Homo sapiens: one gene and its partners. The protein of the gene in region 3 purifies or fractionates together with the protein of the main gene of each other region. This does not show direct contact. Each region holds a gene or a part of one and is shown on either strand. Other genes may lie near its edges.

What was found. Proteins that work in one complex are often made in the same cells at the same time.
Region 1: the proteins of GPR39 (region 3) and HEATR3 purify together in Homo sapiens (co-immunoprecipitation; one large-scale study listed by IntAct). This does not show direct contact.
Region 2: the proteins of GPR39 (region 3) and TRDN purify together in Homo sapiens (co-immunoprecipitation; one large-scale study listed by IntAct). This does not show direct contact.

The regions. Positions count from the first base shown.
Region 1 is NC_000016.10:50,100,470-50,103,969, reverse strand, and holds part of HEATR3 (HEAT repeat-containing protein 3), read right to left. Parts: intron 1,712-3,500; coding exon 1,535-1,711; intron 1-1,534. UniProt on the Homo sapiens protein: Plays a role in ribosome biogenesis and in nuclear import of the 60S ribosomal protein L5/large ribosomal subunit protein uL18 (RPL5). Required for proper erythrocyte maturation.
Region 2 is NC_000006.12:123,546,451-123,549,950, forward strand, and holds part of TRDN (triadin), read right to left. Parts: intron 2,163-3,500; coding exon 2,004-2,162; intron 923-2,003; coding exon 890-922; intron 1-889. UniProt on the Homo sapiens protein: Contributes to the regulation of lumenal Ca2+ release via the sarcoplasmic reticulum calcium release channels RYR1 and RYR2, a key step in triggering skeletal and heart muscle contraction.
Region 3 is NC_000002.12:132,423,305-132,426,804, reverse strand, and holds part of GPR39 (G-protein coupled receptor 39), read right to left. Parts: intron 1-3,500. UniProt on the Homo sapiens protein: Zinc-sensing receptor that can sense changes in extracellular Zn(2+), mediate Zn(2+) signal transmission, and participates in the regulation of numerous physiological processes including glucose homeostasis regulation, gastrointestinal mobility, hormone secretion and cell death.

The sequences.
Region 1 (3,500 bases), on a different chromosome or scaffold from region 3:
GTAGCCTCCAACTCCTGCACTCACACGATCCTCCTGCTCAGCTTCCTGAGTAGCTGGGATGACAGGCATGAGCCACCACTTAATGGCTAACTTAAAAAAATTTTTTTGTAGAGACAAGTTCTTGCTATGTTTCCCAGGCTGGTCTTGAAATCCTGGACTCGAGTGATCCTCCCACCTGGGGCTCCCAAAGTGCTGGGATTACAGGTGTGAGCCACTGCGCCTGGCCTGTGGTTTTTTATATCAATTGTATGGAATCTGAGTTTGATCTCACCTCTAGTCTAGAGCAGTGGCTCTCAGGTTTTAGTGTGCAACGGTATCATCTGGAAGGCTTGTTGAAAAATAGACTGGTGGGCCCATCCACAGAGTCTATGACTCAGTAGGTCAGGAGTTGGGGCCGAGGACCTGCATTTTGAATAAGTTATCAGGCAAGGGCTGATGCTGCTGATACAAGGAGGGCACTTTTGAGAAACACTGCTCAAGAGAAGTTCTTGATTGTACATAAATGCATTTTGCAGCTAAATATACACTGAATAGCCTTTAACACAAATTGTGGCTTCATTTAGCAAAAAAAAGAGTTTCACATAAATAACTACAGGCTAGCCTCTGGCTAGGAAGAAATCTCATTAGAGCTTTATACCTTTGATAAAAGAAAAACAAATGTTATTACCACAGCAATACATACTGAGTAGGAAAATCAATCAGAACAAAGACCTTTCAGAAGTCAGGGGTTATTTTCCCAGTTCACTGTTTAACCTTTTTTAAGCACCTGCTTCTGCAGAGTTTGATGACTCTAACTATTAATATATCTGCTTTCCTTGAAGCTGCAGGGAAATAGGGGATATTTTTTTCTTATCTTGCAAGCTCTTTATCCAGAAATTTAAAGGACTGTAACCTTTAAGAACAATATGGCTGGGCACAGTGGCTCACACCTGTAATCCCAGCACTTTGGGAGGCCAAGGTGGGCAGATCACCTGAGGTTGGGAGTTCGAGACCAGCCTGGATGACAAGGCGAATCCCCGTTTCTACTAAAAATACAAAAATTATTTGGGTGATGTGGTGGACACCTGTAATCCCAGCTACTTGGGAGGCTGAGGCACAAGAATCACTTGAACTGGGGAAGGGGAGGTCGCAGTGAGCCAAGATCGCACCACTGCACTCCAGCATGGGCGACAGAGTGAGATTCTGTCTCAAAAAAACAAAAAAAAGTAAAATTAAATAAATGCAAAATGTGTATGAAAGTGCTTTGCAAAATACAGAGTATAATACTGACATATATGAAGCATTGTCAAAATTACTAAACTTAAAAAAAGAAGAACTTGTCAGATACCATTTTAGCTTCAGTTTCAATGATTCAGTAGTCACACTGTTGAGCTATGACTCAGTCAACGAACATTTTACAAAGTACTGGGGATGCTGTGCTACATATGGGGATTCGTCATGCACATGCTTCTGAGTTGCACAGCGGTAACTACACACACCCTTGTCCCCACAGAATGTTCAGACTTATGTATTTATAAGTTAAATGGCTACAAACCTTCATTTTAAAGACCGGCTGGAATTCTTTCAGAGCAGATAATAATTTAATTTGAATCGAGGCTCTTTCGGCTTCTTTACCATCTGCAAAAACATCAAAGAGGGCATCCAAAGCTTCTCCTGCTACCACAAGGGAAGGATCTTTGGTGGTAACTTCAAGCAGAAAGCACCCAATGTTCTGGAAACAACAAAACACATTTAGTATGACTAACACCAGTCTCCAAAACAAGTACCAACTTTGAATGTGGCAATAACTCATGCATACTATTTTATATACAAATGCCAGGGAAAAATTAAAACTTCAAGAGATTAGACTTAAATACTTATAAACATACCAAGTATAAGCAAGATAAATTAAACATATTATAGTTTATATTCATAAATAAAGTGAATTAAAATCCATAAATGATGTATGATTTTGGAAATCACTAAATTTTCCCCTCTACCTCTCTCAAAAAGGATTTCTCCATGATGTCAAGATGCATAGAAATATTATCTGTAACAACAACGACAACAACAAAAAATCTGCTTTTAAAAGCATAAGAAAAACACTTTAGGCCAGTTGCAAGTGGCTCACACCTGTAAGTTCAGAACTTTGTGAGGCTAAGGCGGGAGGGTCGCTCGAGCCCAGGAGTTCAAGACCAGCCTCGGCAATGGAGCAAGACCTCATCTCTAAAAAACGTAAAATAGGACTGATCTGAATCGAATCTAGTCTGTAGATCTAACTGTCAGTTTGTAGGAAATACAAGGATAAAAAAACAAATTTACCACCACAAGGTAGCAATCAGACAAATCCAGAAGGTTTTGGACACTATATTGGACAACTGATCCAGGAGGTGAGAATAACCACGTGGTGCCGGGGAGGAACTGTTCAAGATTAAGAGAGAAAGAGAAGACCCCACAGGAAACATAACATGTGGACTTCAGCAGTGTAAACAAGCTCTCTGTAAACAGATAATTTTGAGGCAACTGTAAAATTATGAATATGGACCAGGAATTAGACACACTAAGAAATAACTGTTGCCGGGTGCAGTGGCTCATGCCTGTAATCCCAGCACTCTGGGATGCTGAAGTAGGTAGATCGCTTGAGCCCAGGAGTTCAAGACCAGCTTGGCCAACATGGCGAAACCCCATCTCTATTAAAAATACAAAAATTAGCCAGGTGTGGTAGTGGGCACCTGTAATCCCAGCTACTCGGGAGGCTGAGGCAGAAGAATTGCTTGAACCCAGAGGCGGAGGTTGCAGTGAGCCGAGATCACACTACTGCACTACTGTACTCCAGCCTGGGTGACTGAGACTCCATCTCAGAAAAAAAAAGAAAAAAAAAAAAGCTTTGCAAGTATCATTTTTCAAAAATAGATTCTTAAAAACATCAGTCATCATTGTAAAGTTCTTAGCAGGTTAAGAGGTACTTTATAATAATGAGTTTATTATCCACTAGTCTCACACTTCAGCAATTATTAGCACACCAAAGTGTAATGTTACTATGACTGTCCTTTTAATTACTAGTGACGCTGTACTCCTAACAGTGCAGTTTGTGAGCAACTGTGCTAAGTGGTAAGAGCAAATATGCTGAGGGAATTGCTAGTATATTGGCACTACCAGGGTTGCTGCTTAAAATTTATGGAGTGGTATTAGAATTAATTAACTGTGTTGTATTTTTCAGAATGCATGTTGCCTGGTGTGCAAGGAAAATGGTGTGGATTGTTCATTCATCAGCAGGAGAATGTAACATGCATACATTGGATGCAACAGCAAAGGCAGAAGGCATCTTTAAAAATTCTGAATTTGCCCTTTCACTAAAGACAGATTTATTTTTTTAAAAAAGTACCTCTGGAATAACGTTAAATTGTAAAATGTGGCTCAACTTTTCAAATACTTACCTAATTAATACACATAGTTAGATCAAGCCAAAGGGTATATTCTAATAATATGACTCAATAAAGCAACTTGATATGACTTCTTCT
Region 2 (3,500 bases), on a different chromosome or scaffold from region 3:
AATCCACAGTAGGTATTAGGAGAGAGCAACAGAAGCCAGGGTTATCTTCCTGGGTAAACCCTCAACAGCCTGCCCATGTGTAGCAGTAACTAAAACACTGCAATTGTTTTAAGTCTGGCTTGAATGTTGGCTGTTTTCTCACAACAAATGTACCTCAAGATGGTACTACCTGCTCCCCAGTGCCCCTTCCAGATGCAGTTCCTACCCCTTCCTGTCAAAATCTCTGTCTTCTGAAATTCCTGCCCCATTGCTGTCCTCCTTTGTCCTAGGTTTATCGTTCTTATCATTCAGGTTGTGACCACTTCACTCAGTCACCTTATCTATTCCTGCAAGTAATTCCTCTACAGCACATCCAGGCACATCCAGGTAACTCCACTCCATGACAGTGACACATCACACATACCAACTGGATATGCCTTTGCCTCCTAGGCTGTTATGTCCCTCACCGTCTTGTTGTCCTGGCCCATAGTCATCACCTAACATGCAAAATAATGATGGCAAAAAAAATAAAAGGAAAAGAATAAGAATAAACATTTAAAATCAATAAATCTGACCATGGTGAGAATAAATCATGGGTGTCATTTTCTGGGCCATTTCTAAGGCTACAGAATTCTCCCCTCATTCCTCAAATTCCAGCTCATATTGGTCTGTGTATAAATGAATCCATACAAATCTACTGAATAAGGCATTTAAAAAATAATCAACAGAAAAGTAGTGAGATCACCTTCATTGGAAAAGAAATTGAGTATTTTTTTTCTGACTATAAATCTTGACCTAATTATTAAACAAAACCTTTATATTAAAATAAGTAAAATATATTTGAACCATGCTGAAAACCAATATTACCATAAGAGAAAAATAATTATTATCAAAGGTGAAAACAACTAACCTTTTTTTCTCAAGGGAGGCTCATCTATTTCTCCTAGACCAAGATTAAAAGAAAAACAAAGTTAGAAAATATTTTAGCATAGAATAATATGACATCATTATTTTCCCCTTTTGTTTATTTAAAAAAATCTATTAGTTTTAACAATCATAGTCTTTACATTACTTTGCTTCCCAAATTCCAGTTTTTAAGTATAAAGTTTGTTTATATACATTTATATAAGATTGTTTCATTTTTATGAATTCAATAAAATTGTGGCAGTGATCCAAATTATACATTATAGGTTATATATCATATTAATTTCAACTCTCTATTGTTCATGTTGAACTCTTACTGGGGCCAAAACAAATATAATTTCAGGAAAAGTTATAAAAATACTCTAATAATAAAAGCTTTCCTGGTAGTCAAGGCTGAATACATGATTTCTGATGACTAAGACTGACCCTAAAAAGTGTTATCTAATAGATGGAATCACAGTGCTTTGTTCTTTTCATACTCATTCAATGGCAGCTTTTATGTGGTTTGAGATGGCTATTTCCTTTTATTCATTAATATATATGAGAGAGCACATAGGTTAGTTGCATAATTGTTAGGACATTTAGAATGTGTCCTTCTATTCTACACCACCATTTGGTCCAATAAATTTACTCTTTTGATTGTACTTTTAGTAAGATTGCTTTCTGCTATTTGACTATAAATATGACATATGTGTATAAAACACTTATATGTATTTTTAGTTTTACTGTTTTTATTTTAATCTTCCTAGAGATAAACTTGAAAAATAACTATTTTTTCCAAAGAAGCATATAAATGTGAGTTTGTATTGTGGTTTTATAGCAGAGCATAATGAGACTCCCTTTGCTGTAATGCTACATTAATATTAACATTTAATTTTGACATCTTTGCCATAATGGTAGATAAGCTATAAGATGAAAATTAAATAAAGAACAATTTACTGTGTTTGGCAGCCTGTTGATATGCTTTTAGCAGTCAGAAGTGTATTCATTTTGGTTTAGCTTGACCCAAGTGCTCATTTGAATTTAAACTGAGGCAAGCCACTATAATACATATTTAATGTTGCTCCTAGCAGTTAGATATATCTCTATGTTCTTTGTACCTTTATCAGTATCTTCGTCACCATCATCATCTTCTTCATCTTCAGATGAGATGATGTCAGATAACAAAGAAAAGAAGCCATAGATCCAGTCCGTGGTTTCCTCCATAGCATCACGTACCAGTTTTAAAGGATCTGAGCCAATCTTGGCAATAGAGCTTGCTAAAAGTAATTAAAAAAAAAAAAAAAGAAAAAGTTTGTGATCATTTCCAAATAACTTAAGAAAAGCTGTTTTTACTGATTTGTTGTTTTGACAAAAAGAATATGTCAATTTCAACATTCTAAATATCTCCTGGCTACAATTTTTTGCGCAGAAATAGAAACTTCATCTTGCTATAATATGCATGCATGCCAAGAAAGAAAATGCCCTTGGGAAGTTTATAATCCAAATAAGAGTTAGCACTGGAAAAAAAATTAGGAATGAATTAAAATAATGTGTATTTATGTTACCCAGAGTGCAAATAAACCCTATGTTATGGATGTTCAGGAATGGAAGAAATAATTTCAGCACATATTGTATGGGACAGCATTATAGAAAAGATGACTCTGTAAGTTTTCAGACAAATAACAAGTTCTGCAAGTTGACTAAGGTAGTTGTGGCTAAATTAAGACTGATAGGCCCATTTATTCTAATTTGTGATACCACAGGAAGAATCTGGAATAGTCAAGTTAGTGATCATATCAAGCTCTAGTTGGAATAGGTTGGATTTATCTTAGTCATCCCTGTACATGAAATAAAAAAGTATTTGAACTGCTAGTAACTTCAATGGATAGAATCTATAAGTCTTCCCTTTTCTATGTCCTAGGAGATATAAAATGTTTGCTAAATGAAAGATTGAATCATAAAAAAATGCAAACAAATATATTAGGGATTTCCAAAATTTTATTCTTCCAATCATATGAAAACTGCTCTGAAGAGGCAAGCATAGCCTTTAGGATGTGATTACAGAGGTGATCTATCTAGAAATATGGTATAAATTGCATCTGATTTTTTATCAAGCTGTAATTAAATTTTAGAGCTGTGTTTTCCTTAATTTTAAAAACTATTTTAGCTTTTCAGAGATTTTTCTCTCTTTGATATATTTAAGAGATGAGAATTATATCAATGTATTATACTACCTAAAGGTTAAGTACATCTAATTAGGCTTTTACTGTGACTAACATAGTAAGTCATTGGAAGATTTGAGCAGAAAGATGAAGTGATTTGACTTCCTTTACTGTGTTGAAGTTTGAAAGGGTGCCAGGCTGGGAACAGGGAGATGAGTATGAAGCCAACTGAAATCATCCAAGAGAAAGATGATCATGATTTCTATCAGGGTGGTAACAGTGTGTGTGGTGAGATGCAATCAGATTCTGAATGTATTTCAATGACAGAATTAATAGTAGAAGCTTCCAGTGTGGCTGTGATGTGAGAGAAAGACAGAATTCCAGGATAACTTCTAAGTTTTTGGTGTGAGAAACTAGAATGAAGGAAGGAAATGCTCTGAGCTGGGGGAGGAC
Region 3 (3,500 bases):
GTAACACCACTGCTCTCCAACTACCTAGCCACCTTTGCGGTGTGCAAAGCAGTGGCCTGAGTGTTAAACCCTCTGCTTGCCAGAATGGCTCTTACACTCAGTAAGTACAAACAAGACTTTTTGTCAAGTTTCTAAATCGGGAAAGGCTCTAAAATCAGAAAATGATAAAGTCTGTTAGCCCAAGACATTTCTGTTATTCAGACTTGCTTCAGCACCAGGGTTGGCTTCCTCCCTGACACACTTTTTCCATCTGAAGCCAAATGATGAGGGGTACAGGCATCTCCCTTCTGGTGAGGAGGACTCTGGAAAGCAGCAGAGCTGCCTAGGCATCAGCTTATCCACCAAACCTTTATGCAGCGCCTAGTCATTGCCAGGCTATGACGAAATAGAGCTACCAAAAGGATGATAATTATAAGATCAATTCAATACTGTTTTCCTTTCTGACTATCAAGGCATCAGCATTCTGAAAATCCAGCCAGTGGGACTCAAACCCACAAATTTTGTAATTCTCCAAACGAGAGTTTAAAAGTCCAGTGAACATTCCATGGTGCCCTGGATCTTGTTAAACTTCCAGATCACTGAGCACTGAGCAGGTGACCAACAAGTGGTTGGTGGATCTGTGAATGGCTGGGCCAAAGGCAATTCTTGGAAGGTGAGACTTTTCAAAGAGAAGCTTCTGGAGATTGAACCTGTCTTGGAAGTTATAACTAAGGTAGGCCATGTGTTTACCTGGGAGCTCCTTTCAGCAGAGTTCAGTGAATCCATTCGTTTTCTATTGGTACATAGTGAATTATCAAAAATTTAGTGGCTTAAAATAACACCTATTTATTAGCACACAAATCTGTAGATCAGAGATCCAGGCAAGGTATGCCTGGGTTCTCAACATGTAGGCCAGGCTGAATTCTTTTCTAGAAGTTCTGGGGGGGAATTTTACCTCTAAGCTTATTCAGGGCCCATTTTCTTGCTGGTGCTCAGCTCCTAGAACCTACCTATATTCTCTGCCAGCTCCCTCCATCTCCAAAGCCAGCAACAGAGAATTTCTCCCTGGTCAAATGCCTCTCATGCTTTGACTCTTAGTTCTCCTGCCTCTGACCTCTAGACCCAGATTTAAAGGCTCATGTGACTTGGTTAAATCCACACAGAAAATCTCCCTATTTTAAGGTCAACAGATTTGGGAACTTAATTACTTTCCTTCCTTGCAGCACTAGATTAGTGTTTGATTGAATAACTGGGAGAAGATACGTATACCTTATGGACCAGGCATTTTGGAGGCCATTTCAGAATTCTGCCTAGCACAGGGAAAGAAGGAAAGGAAGGTAGAGCCAAGAGAGCTGCCTGAGGATCACAGTGAGGGTGCTTTTCCTCCATTTCAGGAGCAGCAGCCACTGTCAGAGAACTTCAATCCATCAATCTCTCAAGCAATGCATGGCTACTCTGCCCCCAACCCAGTAAGGAAGGTTGAAGATGTACAACAGTGAAGGGTCCCTGATCTTAGGGAGTTCCAATATAGTCGAGAGACATCATCTGTGCCCCCTTCTGAGAAATGTCTAAGATGGCTCACCATGCATAGGAACATCAGTATAGGCTGTCGTAGTCCAGGAAGGCTTCATGGAAGAAGTGGGAGGCACTGAGATATATCATATGCAGAATGCTAGTGTAAGTGGTAGGAAGTTTTGTCATGGGAGATATATGAGTTGGTCGTAGCTGGAGATTGTCGTTGAAGAACGAATAGACCATTGAGCAATAGAGATGACAGGTGAGAGCTACTGTGACCTAGTTTAGCTCCCTAGGGCCACCTCCTAATCAGGGCCTGAGCAACATGGGGGCGGTTTGGGCCTCCGTGCTGGGAAAGTGGGAGTTGCTGAATGGAAGCAGTCACTGTCTGGCCATGGAGGACAGTGGCAGCAGCAAGACTTGGAGAAACCAAGGGCCAGAGGTCTGCCTAATGGAAAGGAGAACTCACCAGTGTCAGCTGCTCTGCCAGAACTGTGTTCCAATGAAGGGTTGTCTGTTTTTTTATTCTATAAACACAGCCAGGCCTGTACTTTGACCCAAATTGGAATGCAACAAATGCTGTCACTCTAGGGGCAGCACTAGAAATCCAACTGTGCTGTTTAACTTCTTAAAACCCTGCAATGGCTTCCAAGGATAAATTCCAAACCCCTTAGCTATGGTTTCATCTGGAACTGGCTGATCCAGTCCACTAGGCTGGGCTCATGATACATTAAAGGGAGAGATATGAAGTTAGGCAATCCTTTTTCATCCTTCACAAAGTCTGGCTTTTAAGATAATTGCCCAGCTAAAGAGGTCAGTAATTCCATCCTCTGGACCCAGGATGGATCCACAACACCTTTGTCCCAGGCAGTAGCTGCTTATTCCTACCCTGGGGTGATAAGTGTGGCTCACTCTTGAGAGAGATGGCTGCAAGTGGATGCAATTTAAGGTGGAGACATAAACACATGGTTTAATATTTTCAAAATGTCACCCCCACTGTATCCTCATTACCTTGAGGACCCCTTGTTAAAAAGTGGTGAAAGAGCCTGCTAAGAAATAATGTGTAGAGTTGTATCATTGCATTTAACATCTTGTTCAATAGATTTTAACAAGGACCATTCACCACCCTAGTCACTTTCATCTCACGGTTACTTCTGGCAGATATACATGGTTAAAGCTAACATTCAGGGTCTGATTAGCACATAGTGTTCATTTGCTCAGGGGCAAGCAAATCTTAAATGTTTTGCATGTTGGTTTGACTTCAGAGGCCTCAGAGGAATCATAACCCTTTCAAAGATAGCATCTTTGGTTCAGATGAACCAGAACACTTTTGAGGAATGATAAACCTCTATACGAATGCATGCCCAAGGGAAAACAGAACATTGCTTCTCAATTCCAAGCTGAGGCTCATTCATTCATTTGTTCAGTCAACAAATATTCATTACCTACTATGTCTAGACACTATGCTGGAATGAGGTACAGTGTTGAGGGAAATTAGGGCATGCACCTATCCACAAGGAATTAGAAGGAAGACAGACATCAGTCGAGTAATTGCACAATTAAATGTAAAATGACAACAGTGAGTCTTGTTTTGTGGGAGGTTTAATGAAGTCAGGGAGGATGGGCCAGTTTCCCTGGGGAGATCTGAGAGAGGAGAAAGATATTAACCTGGGGAAGGGGATGGAAGTGGGGAGCAGGTAGAGAATAGAGTAAGATAGAAAAGCATGCCAGGCAGAGGAAACAACCCATACACAGGCAGCATGGGGGAAGAGAGCCAGTCATGGTCACTTGAAGAACTTGAAGGGGAGCCAGTGGAATAAGGCAGTTAAGGGGTGTTATAAACTGAACTGTGTCCCCTGCAAATTCACATGTTGAAGGCCTAAGCCCCGGTGTGATTGTATTTGGAGATTGGGCCTTTGGGAGGTAATTCGGGTAAAATAAAGTTGTAAGGGTGGGGCCCTAATCTGATAAGACCAGCATCCTTATAAGAAGAGCAAGAGACACCA